Linked DNA regions of Homo sapiens: region 2 is linked to region 1. Evidence: fine-mapped expression QTL. A gene starts in region 1. The other region holds a variant in brackets. All regions are shown on one strand. Distances are from middle to middle.

Evidence for each region. PIP is the estimated chance that this variant, and not a neighbour inherited with it, causes the effect. A credible set is the group of variants that fine-mapping cannot tell apart.
Region 2: its variant is the best candidate, but not a certain one, in a credible set for the expression of LUZP2 in tibial artery (GTEx, PIP 0.90).

What each region holds. Positions count from the first base shown.
Region 1 is chr11:24,493,703-24,502,052 of GRCh38, reverse strand. It overlaps LUZP2 (leucine zipper protein 2), which reads right to left and starts at 5,000. Exons shown (of 12, transcript NM_001009909.4): 1 at 4,748-5,000. The coding sequence starts at 4,809.
Region 2 is chr11:23,972,585-23,980,934 of GRCh38, reverse strand. No RefSeq gene overlaps it. Among named protein-coding and RNA genes, the nearest start is that of LINC02726, 250 kb to the right of the region's middle. The variant A/G (reference allele first, on the strand shown) is at 3,762.

The sequences.
Region 1 (8,350 bases):
GTTATGGGGAGGTCTGTGTTCTACATCAGAAAACTGGATAGAGAGGATAAGAAGTTTACCTAATAACATATAGTAAGTGTGGCAGGATATTGAGGTTGATCACAAAATATTTTTCTTTTCAATATCCTTGGAAAGTAGAAGTTGCCCCAGACACCACTTAATTGGCATTATTAACTCTTTGCTTCATTCACACTTAGAAATTTGTGTAAAATTTTGTTGTTATTTACCCAATTTTGTTTTATATATCATTATTTGTATGTATGACTAGATTATGGATATACATAACTAATCTATTGTTTTATTGCCCTGATGGTGCATGTAATAACTGACTGATAGCAGGCACATTCTTACTGCATGATAATGAAACATCAAAGACATGTCTACAGGGATGAAGACAAGTTCAGAGAGTCTTTTTGGATTTCTCAGAAAAGGAACCATAATTTTAAACAGTACCTGTTTAATCAGGTTACTTAAATGATTTAGCACCATTTGTAAAAGGGATTTTAGCAAATCTTCTAGAAGTCACTGAGAAACAGCCGCACACATAGTTTCTTATAACACACACCAGAAAACATTATTTCATTAGAACCACGCATTCCTCATTGGTTTCAGTGATCTTTGCTTCTTAGTTAGAAGGTCAAGTTCTTCCTTTCAATTACATGGAGTTTGGTTAAGGACAACTGTACAGACAAATCAAATATTTGAGATGTCCCTATCATTAATCACAGAGAAAATTTAATCCACAAAGATAATCACCAGATAAGTCATTTTAAAAACTGCTATTGGAAATAGGTGACTAAGGTGCAAAACTGCAATGTAAGAAGTCAAAATATTTGTGTGTTAATATCTTCTTAAGAAAGCCATACCTCTATCTCATTTACATGGAAGGTACAATTTTTATCACAAATAAAGGAACGTAGGTAGCATCCTGTAAAATGTCATGTGTGGCAGACACTGTGCACAGGACTTAGGAAGCAAACCCATGTTGCCTCAAAATATTTCAGGAGAGTTAAGGTGAGACTGCTTCTTGCATCAAATTTATTTGGGTAAAAATATTTTTTGTGTGTTCTCATTGTGTTTATTGTGATTCTTGTCCTTTATTCTACAAATCAAGTTGATCTTGAGGTTAGTTTAATTCACGGAACAAATAGCCCGGGGCATCTTCAATATATAGTATCATCTAAAAATAGATTCCAAAATAAACATGTAGTGTGACTGCTGATCAGACAGTCCAGGAGAGACCTCTAAGGTGACTCCTGTTGGGAGGACTATAACCGACCATCTGCTCAAAGTTCTTGCTTCATGGAAAACCACCAGAAGTCAATAGACCTTCACTCCTCCCCTGCCATGTCTCTCTCCTTATTAAGTCATTTAAAAGTTAACAATCCAAAGGCATCAAGAGTATAACCACAGCGTAAAGGAACAGAGGTTCAGCAGAATAAAGCATGAGCCTTCTCCAGCACTCCATGGGTCCCTTTTCACCAAGAACTTCTAAAGAATTTTTCACCCTACCATTACTTTCAATACCTATACTGCTTCTTTCTGAAGTGAATTACTGCCTACCTTGGAATAGCAATTTAATACTATACAACAAGGCTATCTTAAAAGTATAGTCATTCTACTCCAAAGCTATTAAACCAACATGTTTGCTTTCTTTGATCACATTTATTTGTGTACAGTTTAAATGAGTTTCTGTATTAGTTACATTATTCATATCATTAACTTGATTTTTTTTGGTAATTTATATGCATTTTCTAAGCAGGAGAGACCATATGCCAGGACATTAAACAGCTCTTTTTCTTTGTTCGTTTTTTAAAACTCTATGGGGTTTACCAGTAAAACAGAGAAAAATGCTTGGCTTTTGTGTAAATTGAACATTTAGCTTTCTTTCAGGACAAATACATTAACTCTGATTGGGGGCCATTGATGTTCACTGTGATTAAATTATGGGATTTTGTGCTTCAGCATCTAAAGTTGCTTCAGAAAAGGTGAGAAGGAGGAACAAGCAAAAAGAGAAAGCTATTCAAAAATGTCTATTTAAAAGGCAGGATTGTTTTCTATTCAAAAATTTCTGTTTAAAAGACAGGATAGTCGCTGTGGGCTAGATACCATTAGACCTGTTCACAACACAGTCAAAAGACTACCTTTTCACCTGCAGCATTTGTTTCACTGAACAGATTACTTTAAAATAGAACTGAACTTCAGACCTATTGGAAATAAAATAGCAAAGTATTAAGGCAATGCACTCAGAGAAAGATATAATGAAACAAATATATATATATATTTGCATTAAGAGTCTCCGCTCTGCATTCCCTACACTTTGGAAAGAGTTTGACAATAAAAGACAGGTGAGATTACCCAAAGGCTATAGGAAAAACTAGCAATTACCACCACCTGCTAATGCATCCAGCGTGATCTAAACATGTGAAATACCATTTGCTTCACATACAGGACTACTGACTAAGAAACTAAGTTAACAGAAGTCTTTGGCCAGAAAACCCACTGTCCCAGGTGGCCATGGCTGAGCTACTCAGCTTTTCCCAGCAGGACAATAAGCTCATCCCTACTAACACAACTGTCCTTTCAAAGCTGCTCAGTTTAGGTTCTAATCTGCACAATAACCATGTGCCTATAAGAACTGTTAAATATTATACACAGAATGGCCTTCTGTTAGAGATCTTTAAAACATATTCTCTTCTTTGCAAAATGACACTGATAGTACCGCATTGCTTTTCATATTTGTTCAATATCACAGGGTATTCTGGGTATCCAGTAAAATGAATTCCTACAGAGTAATCACATTAATAAGATATGCTACTTATTATAAATATTTCATCTTTTTCAAGCCCAGCATTCTCTTCTGGTAAAATTTAATAACCATAGTTTTCACATACCACAAGCATTGCAGAAGTTTCAAAGCTAAAGTGAAATAGATGATTATTCCAGTTTTTGTTGTAATAAGTGTGTTAACTATTTTTAAAGAAATTTATCCCTATCAAAATCAACACTTTCATGAAAGGAAAAGATAATGGCTTTTTGACCCTGTATTAGATATCGAACATTAAATCTTTGGACGCTAGAGACTATAGAGCTTTTTCATTCAATTTAATTATAGTATCCTTAAAAAGCAAATGTACTTTTGGAACTCTAGAGATGTTCACAGTCTAAAATCACTGTGGGCTGGATTTCTATTGTTTAAATATTTCCTATTATTTATGCATGTGTTGACTGTCATCTACTTAAGTGTCCAAAGTTAGAAAATTTCCTTTCTCTAGAAGACTAAATCACAACATAAGAGTGAATGGCAAGAATTTAAAGAATAACTGTGATGCATAATTTGTATTGAACTGTTGAGAGCTAACCACAAATATTAAAATGGGCTCTGTATTTAGAGCAACTAATTATAATACTGGGAAGCAAACTGGTTTTCTTTAAAACCATCTGCACTTTATGAGCTGAAGTGACAAGCAAACCTTACAGAAAATGAAGAATCAAACTTACATTTCATTTTAATCTGGGAAAGTCACCTGGGCTTTGTTTGCAAGGAAAGACTAAATTTATCAATTATTGAGGGTAAATGAAATAGTCTCTACACTAAAAGGAAAGTTTGGTTACACAGGCCTGAAAGAAGGTGTGTAGATTAGGAACGGAATCAAGAATTTTACAGCCTTGATTTGTAAGACAGAGTAAGTTTTCTTCATCCTTTTCCATTTCAGAATTAGAAACAACCCTATATCCCTACTTTATTTGCCATCAGATGCACAATCAAATAATGTTTCTATTCACGTAGACTTGAAAGGATCTTCATCCTGTGTGGGTTATTTTATTTTATAGTAGCCAAGGGAAAGAGGTTGCTGCCAATATGATGCTAAGGGCATGCAGAATAAAGACAGTCCTGGGCAACTAAACAGTCCACCTTTGTGCTGCGCTTGTGGAAGAAAAAAGCAAACCCATCACAACTTTGGGACTTGATCAACAGTGGGGAGTCACAAAACTCTTCTCAATCTCTGCATTTTAAATCTCCACCAAAAATAGCTCCTCTGTAATGGGGCTTAAAGTCCCATCCATGGCCAGTGATGGAGTACAGTACTTAATTGTTTCTGACTAGGGTCTCTGCATCAGCACTCTGAGAGTGTCTTCTAACTTTTAATCGCCTTCTGTGCTCTTTAATTAGACCTGTTCACAAGACAGTCAAAAGAAAACGCCTATCACTAAGCTTATCCAAGACGTTGAAACATGCCATTTCAGGAGTCCAGGAACTTTTGTACAAGTCTTAGCATCTTCCAGGATTAATCTGTTTTCTCTGGTTTCCTCTTCCTTAAATCAGGCACACTTGGGGGAAGGGAGAAGCTCTATGGTTATTAAGACAACTCCAATGTAAAGACACTGCCTGGTGGCAATTCCCTCCTTGCCTATTTCCGTTCTTTATTTTGTTCTTTTACCGCGTGTTACCTTTTGGCTACTAATAGGACCGGAGGGTAAAATGTCTTTTCTCTCCTTCGGAAGAGAAAGCTTTTGATCCCTCACTGAGAGCAATCCTAAGACTTTCTCCAGGGGGCTGGGATAACTAGGAAAGGGCTCTGCTCTCTCAGAAGGATTTCAGAGCCCAAACCATACAGCGTCCCTCTTGCTTAGGCGGGAGATGCAAACAGCTGAAGTGCCTTGGCCCCCACTGGTGACCCACAGTAGGACCAACCTCGCCCCGGCAGCGCCCCTGGCCTCAGGTCACTCACGCTCCTGGACTCACCTGGTGCTGAGGACCAGCGCAGGCAGGAGAGGCAGCAGGTAGTGCGCTGGGCTGAATTTCATGCTGCTGCCTGCCGGGGTCCTCCTTCCCTCGCTGCCTTCTCTCTCTCTCTTCGGGATCCTGTCGCTCCTTGGTGCCCGGCTCTGTCCCCAGCCAGTGATGAGCGCTCTTCCGAGGCGGAAAGGCGGAGACGGGCACACGAACGGACGCCTGGGGAAGGCAGGCGCTGGGAGCGAGGAGTATCTTCAGGAGTGATGTCACCGGCGAGGCGAGCCCTGCCGGGGATTGTTCGGCGCCGCCGCTCCGGAGCCCGGAGGGCGCGCCGTCACTCGCGCTGGAGGCGGCGCGGGGAGAGGGAGGGGGCGCCTCGCGATCGCCCCGTGCGCTTCGGTCACCGGGCTGCGCTCTGGTCAGTCGGGTGAGCACTGGCCAGGGGCGGATCATTTATTCCCGCTGCTCCCCAGGATGGCGCGGGGCGGGGCACGGAGAGTAGAAACCTAATCTGCCGATAATTGAACTTGCGTACTCGGCAGGAGATGAGACCCAATTCACTGGGAGAGACTTCCAGACGCGTAGGGTCCTAGGCAGGTGTCTCTCGCCGCTTAAACCGTGTTTGGAAGAACGTCGCTCTGGAGAGAGTGTTTAGAAGATTGTTCTAATTAGAACTGCATAATGATTTGCCTGAAACAGATGGAAGGAAGCGGGAGTAAGCAGCGTCCAGAAATGCAACCTCAGCCCGTCATGGCATTGCAATCTTCTTAACCCGTGAATGTTGACTGCAAAGAACCAAAGAACGTTTCGGGACCGTTAAGACATCTGCTGCTCTGGGTTTTGAAGATTTCTGATCTTCCTCTGATTTCAGTCGTCTGTACCAGCACCTGCCAATGGGGTTGGACCTGGTGGCTCAAGTTCACACACCTGAAGGAGTCCTTTTCCTCAGGTGAAACTCATCAAGGAGACCTAGCGGACAAAAACCATTAAAATGTTAACAGTAATCAGCTCGGAATGATGGTACTGGAAGGTAGAGGTTTTGTAGGTCATTTGGTTTTCTATATTTTCAAATGTTCTATCATAAGCATCCAATATTTAATAGGCTCTATTTAGAAATTTTAATTAGAAAAATTAAATAGCACAATTATAATCCAAAACACCATTTTGCAAAAGCAATTCTGAGAAACAGAACTACTATCTCTGCTACTGAGATATTCAATTCTAGGATATTTATAAGATGATATTGCATGTGTGTGTGTGTGTGTGTGTGTGTGTGTGTGTGTGTGAGTGAGAGTGAGAGAGAGAGAGAGAGAGAGAATGAGAATTCCATCTGGATATTATCCTGGTTATATAACTGTGTATAAGGCACTTCTTCATACAGTATTTAATTTAATCTTCACAAGAGCCATCCTAGTGAAATAGACGTTAATATCACTATTATAGATATGAGCAGACTGAATATCATCAAAATCTGACTATGCATATTAAAAAAAAGAACTGGTTCTACTAAGTCCTAAGAAAAATTCCACTGTTGCCTCAAACATCACAACTAGCACTCCTAGCCCAGTGTTTGACACAAAGTTGTGTTCAGTAAAGGGTGAGGTGCACCAAAGTCCCGAAAGATAATGGACAGCTGTGTCCAGGAATTCCTATCTAGAGGTTTCAGTTCATGTTCCAATTATTTCGGGGGCAAGCTCTTTACAGAAAAATTTAGATGATACATCCTCTTCAATCTCATTTTCGAAGACATTTGTAGGAAAAATGCATTTGCTGTAAAGCTTTATTTTAAAGAGGATGCAAATCTAAAAGGTTAACCATCTAATTTACTATTTTTTTTAAATGGGATTGAAGGTTAAGACATGTATGTAAAACAGATTTGCTTCAAAATCTTGAGCTGCTGAACTAGATGAGTAATAAGTTTTGAAAAGTGAATATTAGCCCCTTGGGCAATAATAATAAGATCCACAACATTATCGATCTTGTATATGCCTAATAAGTAGGCATATACAAATAAACTAACATGTGAATTGCATATCATTTAAGAGAAAAAAACGACACCACACTTTTCTAAAACAGAACTCTGATTCCAAGTAAAATAAAAACTCTGGTTTGCTCCTGCCAGGGTTTTCTAACATAGATTCCCTGCTCACTTTGAAGGAGATTACTTGAGTTGTATACTCAACAAAGACATAAGGCTACTTGGCAATTTTTTTAATGTGTGCACCAGGAAATAACACTCATATTTGTAGAATACATTTTTTATATAACAACTTTGCATCCATTATCTTACGTCCTAATCATAGAAACCAAATGTGGTAGTTATTTCTAGTATTTTTCTCTTTTCCAGTTAAGGTGACAGTTTCAGAGTAGTTAAGTAACTTGCTCAAGGTCACTCAGAGACTTATATAGTGGCGATGGCATTCAAATTCAGTCTGCATTACTTCAAAATGTATGCTTATTTGAGAGAAAAACATTATACACATGTAAGAAAAAACTTTCCCCAACCTAAGTTTTTTTTACTTTCAACTAGACATATAACATAAAACAACAACCAAATTATCTAATATCAATGAATAAAAAAGTCAGAATGAACTTTCTTTACACTGTATCTATATTGGATATCTATAAAGAACCACAAAGTTTGTTGGCCTTTGTGCATTTACTGCAAGCCAAAAAGAAAAAAAAAAAAATCTCTCCAAAAGACATCTAACTTGGAAGGGCATGAGAGCAACATAGTAGGGGAGTACATCTTGAAAGGTATAAGTAAGATTCTGGAAACTCCCACAGATGTAGAGAATTGAAGTATTATTTTGAATTCAAGTACAGATGTGTCTCTCAGCAGAAGTCTTTTCTTCTAGGAAAATTACAAAACCAGGAATCTCCATCACCCATGACATTCTGTCCACATTGTCACATAAAAACCTAAATTCAGAATAAATTTTGTGGCTTTGGAGAATTGGTAGATGAATTTTAAAGATACATTAGTACAGATAGCAATTCACTTATCTTAAACTACTTATCCTATGCTGAGTCCTAACACTGGAGTCAGCAAGCATTGTTTGTGGTAACTGTACCCAAGTCTGAAAAAGAACATCAAGAAAACCCAAGCAGTTGTGCTGAGTCTCTATAAAGTGCTAGGATTAGGAGATATAGAAGCTGTTTTAAAAACAGCTTTATTGAGATTTAATTCAGGTACTAAGAACTTCACCATTTTAAAGTGTGTAATTTAGTGCTTTTATACACATCCATAAGATTATGAAATCATCATCGTTATATAATTCCAGAACATTTTCATCATGCCCAGAAGAAATCCTGTACCTACGAGTAATCACTCACTGGTCCCCACTTTATCCCTTCTCCTGAACCCCCACAGACACCAATCTAATTTCTCTCTTTATGGATTGACCCAAATCTTGACATTTCATATAAATTAAATCATACTGTATCTGGTTTCATATAACTACTCTCTTTCACATTCATGTTTTAAAGTTCATCTGTATTATAGCATATATCGTTACTTAATTTCTTTTTATTGCTGAATAATATTCCATTGTAAGGGTATACCACATTTTGTTTATCCATCCATCAGTTAATGGATATTATGGTTGTTTT
Region 2 (8,350 bases), 520 kb after region 1:
TAGTTATCTGTGAATCTCATCAGTCTGGAGTTGATAGGTTTATAATATAATTTCTCCTACCATACAGGAGTTCCAGGAGCCACCATAGGTAACAAGGTAACTGTACAAAAGTTGGTCTCTTTATACCTTGCAGGAACAGAACAATGACCAAAATATTAAGGGCCTCTCAGATTCTAAATGACTACTTAAAAAGGCGAGAGTGATGAAAAATTTAAAATAAAGAATGAGAAAACTGAAAGAACTAGTTCAACCAAATATATTTATTGAGAGTAAAAGCTCTAAGGCACGTGGTAGCAGAACATTTTAGTACAAAGTAGGAGTATGAACCGAGAGGCAATAATTGTCACTTAAATTCCAAGAATATACACTACTAATGCCAATTACTGCAACAGCGGTTATGGAAATTTTTCACTTCAAAATTATAGCTCTGCACACTGTAGAATGTGTGAGGATAATTTGCTACTTTCCTTCACTCACACCCCCTCTCTCTTAACCCCTTCTTAACCGTTTCCAAGTAGGCTTCTCTTGAGAAGGGGTCATTTTTGGTGTTACTTATGGTCTCAAGATGGCCACATTTGGTTGCAGAGTTAAATAGGGCAAGAATTCTTGTTCTTGAAAATACCTCCTGTTCAATGAGAATATAATTCTTATGACTTAAATCAGTGCATTGAGCTGTCATTCAAGTATGAAATCCTAGGAGATGCTGGAAGAAAGATAGGTCAATGACTCAAAAAAGAATCTGGAGCCTTTCACTGAAGATTTTGAATTTAGGATACTGTATGGCTTTTGTAGAATATACTATTTCTAACAAACTAGCAGCAGGAGCCACCTCAGAAACTTCTGGTGAGAAAAAAAAAAGCTCTACAAAATGTTTTTAGAGCTAAAAATATTCTGTCATTTTAAACTAACAACAGCCATATGTCAGAGACTGTGTGTCCAACCAATAGATCTGAGAGTTGTAGCATTAAACATATTAGAAACAATGGAGGGAAAGCAAAAAATACTAACATCAGATATGGCAGCGTAACATCACCACAGACTGCACAGACATAAAAGGATATTAAAGACATGTCTTAAACAATTTTATGCAAGTCAATTGGACAACTTATATGAAATGGGCACACTCCTTACACTCCTTTAAAGGCACAAACTACCAAAGCTCAGTGTCCAGAGAAACAGAACCAATAAAATGTGTGTGTTTATTTATATATTTATTTACTTATTCCTTATCAGGTTTTGGCCCCATATGTACAAAGTGAGTTGACAAACTGGAGACCTGGCTGTCAGGCAGGAGGTAATCTCTCTTACTTGAGAGAGTGTCAATCTTGTTATCCTTCTATTCATGTCTTCAACTGATTGTATGAGGTCCACCCACATCAGAGAGGGCAGTTTGTGTTAATCAACCAATTTCAATGTTACTCTCTTCCCCAAACACCCTCACAGAAACACCCAGAATAATGTTTGAACAAATATCGAGGCACCCGGTGGCCTTGTCAGATTGACGCATAAAATTAACCAACATACACACTCAAGAAGAAATAAAGAAATTGAGTAGCCTAATTACATGACTATTATTAACCTAATTATTTTGTTAACCTGTTAACAAAATTGAATTTTAGTTATAAACCTTTCCACCAGGAATCCTCTGTACTCATATGGTTCACTGGTAAATTCTACTGGATACTAAGGAATAAAGTAGAACTAATTTTACACAAGCTCTTTCAGAAAGTTGAAAAAGCAGTAATACTTATGAACTCATTCTAAGAGAATGACATTACTCTGAGAACAAAACTAAGATATTAAAAGAAATGAAAATTGGAGACCAATGCTCCACATGAGTATGGATGCAAAATTTCTTTTAGAAAATCATATACCATATATACCACTGTACTTAAGATAGATAATCCACCAATTCAAAGTAGGTTTTTTTCACAGAAATTTAAATTAACATTAGAAATTTAATAAATGTGATTCGTTACATTCACAGACAAAAAATAAAAATCATATGATCATCTCAACATATGGATAAAAAAAGAACTTGATCAAATCTAAAATCACTGAAGAAAATTCTTAGCAAACTAGAAACGAATAAAACAATTTTTTCAACCCAATCTTTGGCAAACTGACAGCTTATATCATTATATCATATTACTTATGAGCAGTAGAATGCTTTCCTCCTAAGATCAGGAATAAGGCAAAGATGTCCATTTTTGCCTTTTTTTTTTTTTTTAAGACAGAGTTTTGCTCTTATTGCCCAAGCTGGAGTGCAATGGCGCAATCTCGGCTCACTGCAACCTCCGCCTCCCAGGTTCAAGCGATTCTCCTCTCTCAGCCTCCCAAGTAGCTGGGATCACAGGCATGCACCACCACGCCTGGCCAATTTTTTGTATTTAGTAGAGATAGGGTTTCACCATGTTGGTCAGGCTGGTCATGAACTCCTGACCTCAGGTGATCCACCCGCCTTGGCCTCCCAAAGTGCTGGCCCCTTTTTTGCCATTTTTGTTTAGCATCATACATGAGGTTCTAGTAGTGCAACATGGCGAGAAGAAGAAATGAAAGATTTCCAAGTTGGAAAGAAAAAATGTAAACTGTTTTTATTCATGGACTAAATAACCAACTCTTCAGAAAATTCATTGCAATTTACAAAAATGCTAGTATAACTAACTAGTAAGTTTATCATGGTCATAGTGTACAAAAATTAATATCTAAAAATTATATTTCTAGATAGTAGCAAGGAATGAATACATTAAAATTTTTAAATATGTTGTAATAGTATAAAATATGATATATTTAGGTACAAATCTGAAAAATGATGTTCAAGGCCTATACCTAAAAGCTATAAAACCTAAAACAAATGAAGAAATGTACCATGCATTTAAATATGCACAAGCCCAGCATGATGATTCATGCCGGTAATCCCAGCACTTTGGGGTGAAGGCAGGAGGATCACTTGAGCTCAAGAGTTTGAGGACAGCCTGGGCAACATGGTGAGACCTCATCTTCACTAAAAATAAATAAATTTAGTCAGGCATAGTGGCGCACGCCTGTAGCCCCAGTTACTCAGAAGGCTGAGGTGGGAGGATCACCTGAGCCTGAGAGACGGAGGCTGTAGTGAGCCATGATCGCATCACTGCACTCCAGCCTGGGTGACAGAGAAAGATCTTGTCTCAAAATAAATAAATAATTCATAAATATGCACAATTCATTGTATGTCAATCATTCCTGAATAAAGCGCTAAAATATTATGAACAAGTAAACACATTTTTAAGGCCTCCTCAAGGGCTTTGGAAAAGTTCTGTTAAAGTGACACCTTCTGAAACTTTACTTCTTTAGATTGACTATAAACCTATAATGCTAAAGAGATACATCTAGACCTCTACGGACCAGTGTCTTAGTCCTCAGATAAGACTAGGGTTAGCACATAAAGCCTTTCAAAGGCAGGGACCTTCTAATGTTTGTGGCTGCACCTTGGCATCTATAACTGTGAGATCAGAGAGATATTAGAATGATTGATTGAAAGCATCAGCTCATCTTTCATAATCATAAGTGCTTAGCTATAAGAACTTACCTACTCATTATGAAAGAAACTCCTACAAAATAATATGTAGTTAAATGATTTGTCAAATCATAGATATGGGAAAAATAAGAGATACAATTCTATTTGTTTCTATACTACTATTGAAAGATTCCTGAGGCAACTGTGAAAATGAGCTTAGTTTTAAGTTAGGAAAAATGTCTCATGCTAGAAATATGTTTAGAGT[A/G]AGTCAATGAATTCCTTTGAGAATTAGGGTTTCAAAAGAAGGAAAAATATCTAAAAAGTCTATCAGAATTATTTTCTCTTTTTTCCCCTTTTACAGCCACCAGTAAAATTAGGAAGTCATGAAACTAAAGTTCTTGACATCTTCAAAAAATTATGAGGTAGGGAATCTTATCCACAGAAAGCAGTGAAGAATATTAAGGCTTAGAAAGAACAACTTGCTCAGGTCTTGGCATGAGAATGGTAGAGTTAACACTTAACTGAGATCATGCTGTTTCAAAATCTGTGATCATTCCTTCTATCATAAACAGAAGTGATAGACAAAATGTCTGGGATTTTCCTTTCCATTCTGTGGTAACTGACTTCTACTCTTAGCTTAGTTATAATTTATAGTAACAACTTATACATGGGGCTGTTCTTTCTGATGTAGCTTTTAGGAAGGGGCATTCACTTATTAGGAAGGTACAGAACATTAATTTTTTAAAATATGCATCAGGCAGTCAGTTCTGATGACTTTCATATGTGAATAAAAGGTTTTCATCACTTGGGCTGTGGTAAATGGAATGTTTCACATTGTGACAGAATATGGATGAAGAAAAGGGAAGGCAGATAGCAAGCAGGGAAGAACGAAGATCCTTCCTAGAGAAATTAAGTGACTCAAAGGAAGTTCAAGAAGTACAAGAGAAAAAGGAGAGTGATGAAAGGAGGATCTGAGAAGGTTGGACACATTCACAAGTCTTGAAGAAGGTTATCATAAAAAATTAACAAATACAGTTTACTGGCATGAGATCTATCAGTGACTAACGTGTGCTTTTTTTCTTCTCCAACTATTGAGAAAAGCAGAAGTAAAGAGCCAAAGAGAAACTTATACTTCTTTTTTTTTTTTAAATTTTATTATTATTATACTTTAAGTTTTAGGGTACATGTGCACAACGTGCAGGTTTGTTACATATGTATACATGTGCCATGTTGGTGTGCTGCTCCCATTAACCTGTCATTTAGCATTAGGTGTATCTCCTAATGCTATCCCTCCCCACTCCCCTCACCCCACAACAGTCCTCGGTGTGTGATGTTCCCCTTCCTGTGTCCATGTGTTCTCATTGTTCAATATAAGATACTTTAATGATCACACCAGCATCAATACTCAAAGGGACTAGTGAGACCAAGAAAAATCAAGGGACCATGAAAGGCAGAGCTCCAGCATGACTTATACATTCGCTATCTATTGACTTTATGCTCACAGGACTTTCACTCCTGCATCAAGAGGCCTAAGTTCTCATCTACTTAGGGATTATTCTGTATAGGTGAAGAAACTGAGGTCAAGGGGCATACCCAAGTTAAGAAACTCATACATTCCTGGTTCTTTTTCCACTGTACCACACTGCTTTTTATTCATATCCAGATATAGCTTGTATTTGGCTTCATTTTAATGTGTGTGTAAATGCATCATTTTTACAAAGAGTGTCACCTATAGAAAATTGATCCCATCAGTTTGTCTTAGTTACTTTGATTCTATATGCAAAATACAATGCAAATAAGGGTGGCAATGGTATAATTCCACTTAAGCATTCACTCTCCCTCATTTCCTTCAAGCATTTCAACTTGTTCGAGAATAAGCTTTGTAACTTATTGCGAGCAGCCTGAGAAACCCCAGAGAAGAGGATGGGTGGATCGACTACACATTGAGTAATAGATGGGAAAAATTTTCTGTATGTGATACTTCAAATGACATTCCTCTATTTCCATATTGTAAATCTTTTAAATATTACATCGCCATTTAAAAGCCGTCTAGAAGGTATTCTTGATATAAATTTTGAACAAATATATATACATACCAGCCTCCTGTCACAGTTTTACCACTCATTTGCTGTGTGACATTCTTGTTTAATGTCTCTGTGCTGTAAGTTTCATTTAGGATAATGAAACAAAAGATCTCTTTTATCTCATCCAGGTTTGACATTTTGTCATCTAGTACAGGAAGATATTCGGCCACTTTCTGTTGACTTACAACCACCTGGAAACCCAGCTTTCTCACTGCCACTGCCCACATTCTGTCCCTAAGTTCTGTTACTCCGTCCACCCCCTTTCACCCAACCCAGCACCTTTAGGCAGAAACAGATGTAGCAGAGACTTTATTCTACACTATGACCAGGGCTGGGACCCTTTGTACATGAAACTTGTGATATGTGTTATTAATTTTTGCTAATTTATTTAATGACTTTTCAAGTCAGTGAGGAGGCAGATCACAATGATCTAACTGCCAAACAAGGATATATGCCTTCAGAGTGTGCTTGAAGACCTTTAAAGAAATTAGTTTCCATTTATGGTGAAGGTATTTAAAGAAAGGCCCTCATCATCATCATTGGCAATATTGCCAGAAAACCAAGAAAATATGTTATGTGTAATCTTTGGAAAATAATAGATAAAACCATAAGAAATCAGGAATGAAACTATTTTTGGGAATAGAATGCTACTGTGTTTTTTAAAAAATTCTCCAAATATTTAGTCTCATCTGTTTTCACAAAATATCTAACAGGGTGTCCCATCATTTTGGCCTGCAAGATAAAGTCTGAATGTTGCATCCTTTACTTTTATTTAATGTTATTAATTCAATGAACATTTATTGAGATCCAGTATTTACAGACATCATACTAAATAGTAGAGACACAAGCTTGAGTAAAGTAGACTTACTTCAACTTTAATCTATAGCAAAAGAGGCAGGGACTCTAAGTAGAAAGTTACCAAACTCAATTAGGGTCCAAACAAAGGATTGTATAAGGTGTCACTGAGGACAGAGAATAGGTGGCAACTAATTTTGCCTGAGCGACAAGGACAATTTAACAAAGAAATTGGTCTTGTCAAACAAGAGATTTTTTTCCATTAAGAGTGGGAATTTCCTTGGAGGGAAGGGCAGAGGGCACATTCCAGACAGAATAACCAGAGTAGGCATGTGGAGACAAGAGAGCTGATAGAACATTTAGAGAACACACCATAATTTGATGCTGTTGGAGCATAAGTTTGTTCAAAAGAAATCGCATGGAGAAGCTAAGTAAGACGGGTACAATGTTGCAAAAAGACTTGTAAGTCAACCTAAGGAATATGGTGACCCATGCTAATATTTCCAGACCATCTTTTGGATATATACTTTTATACTTTTATGTTTGTCCAGTGTCTGGCCCCTAGCCTCCCTCCTCCCTTTTTCCTCATAAATTCCTGGTTCTCTTTCCACTGCAATAATTTATTTCATAAAGTAATTATAATTTTATTTTGAAGAACTAATTCCCTCTCATATTGAATCATTATAATTTTACTAGAGATGATTGCATCTTTTAGATTCAGGAATGAGAATGTAACTTACATCTGCAAGGCTGTGTATTCCTTTCCCAGACTACAACAACTAGTCGAGGAATAGATGTTACTGTGAAAGGAAAATACGTCTCAGGATCCCAAAATCACTAAGCCAAAGGGGAAAAGTCAAGTTGGGAACTGGGTCACACAAACCTGCCTCCCATTTGATTCCTAAATAAGACAGCTACAAAGATAAAAAAACTACATAGCTCCCTCACAATTTTCCCACAAGGAACTTTCTTGTGGGCCCCAAGTTCTTTACTCTAAAGCAGTCCTATTCAATTTCACCCTGGCAATGTAAATTGATAGCTTTATTCACAAGTGCAGGACAAAGGACAGAACTCAAAGTCATTCATCTGTTCACCTGAGACAAACGCATATCTGATTATGTAAAAATGCAGATTCATGCCAGACAAAGGCATGAGTGACTATTTACTCGCCCCCTACTTGAAAATTGTGTATTTAGTAAAAGGCTGATCAAAGACTCAACAGAATGCAACCCTTTGTCTCTTATCTCCCCACACATTTTTTAAATTTCTTTCTCTTCCCCCAATATACACCCTTTCCCATTCAAATATTTAAGCTCTCAAAATCATCTTTGGATAAAGGCCTCCAGGGCATGTGGTCCTTAATTTTGGCAAAAAAAAAAAAAAAAAAAGTCCTAAAATACTTGAGACTCACTCACTTCGGTCATTTTCATTGATTTACATTACCTATGTTGATTCACTAAAAACACATCTCAGAAACATTGCCATAATGATTGAAAGAACTGCCACTACAGCCAGAGTATAATCTGAAACCAAAATGCCATTTAAATTTTCAGTTTGTAAGGCAGTACAAAAAAAAAATCCCATTTTGCATAATTTAATTTGAATTTAGATTATTTCATTTGCAGCCAAAATATTTAGACAAAAAGCAACAATTTAATATGTTTATGTTTCATAATGTGAGGTATGGTTATATTTTATATCTAGATCACTGACATTTTGATGTCAGTTTATGGTAGAGATTGAAGTGAGAGAGAATGCAGGGAGAAAGGTCAGAAAGATTGGCTTGAAAATCTACAGTAAAAGAAAAATGGTAAGACTCTAAATTAATGTAGTGATCCTGGAAATGGAGTCTGCAAGTCTGGCCTATTTTATTCCACCTCGAATCACCAGGTCCAGACTCAGAGCCTAACACATAGTGTGTGCCCAATATATAGTTAATGAGTAGAAAAATTCAACATAGAAACACTGATAAGAA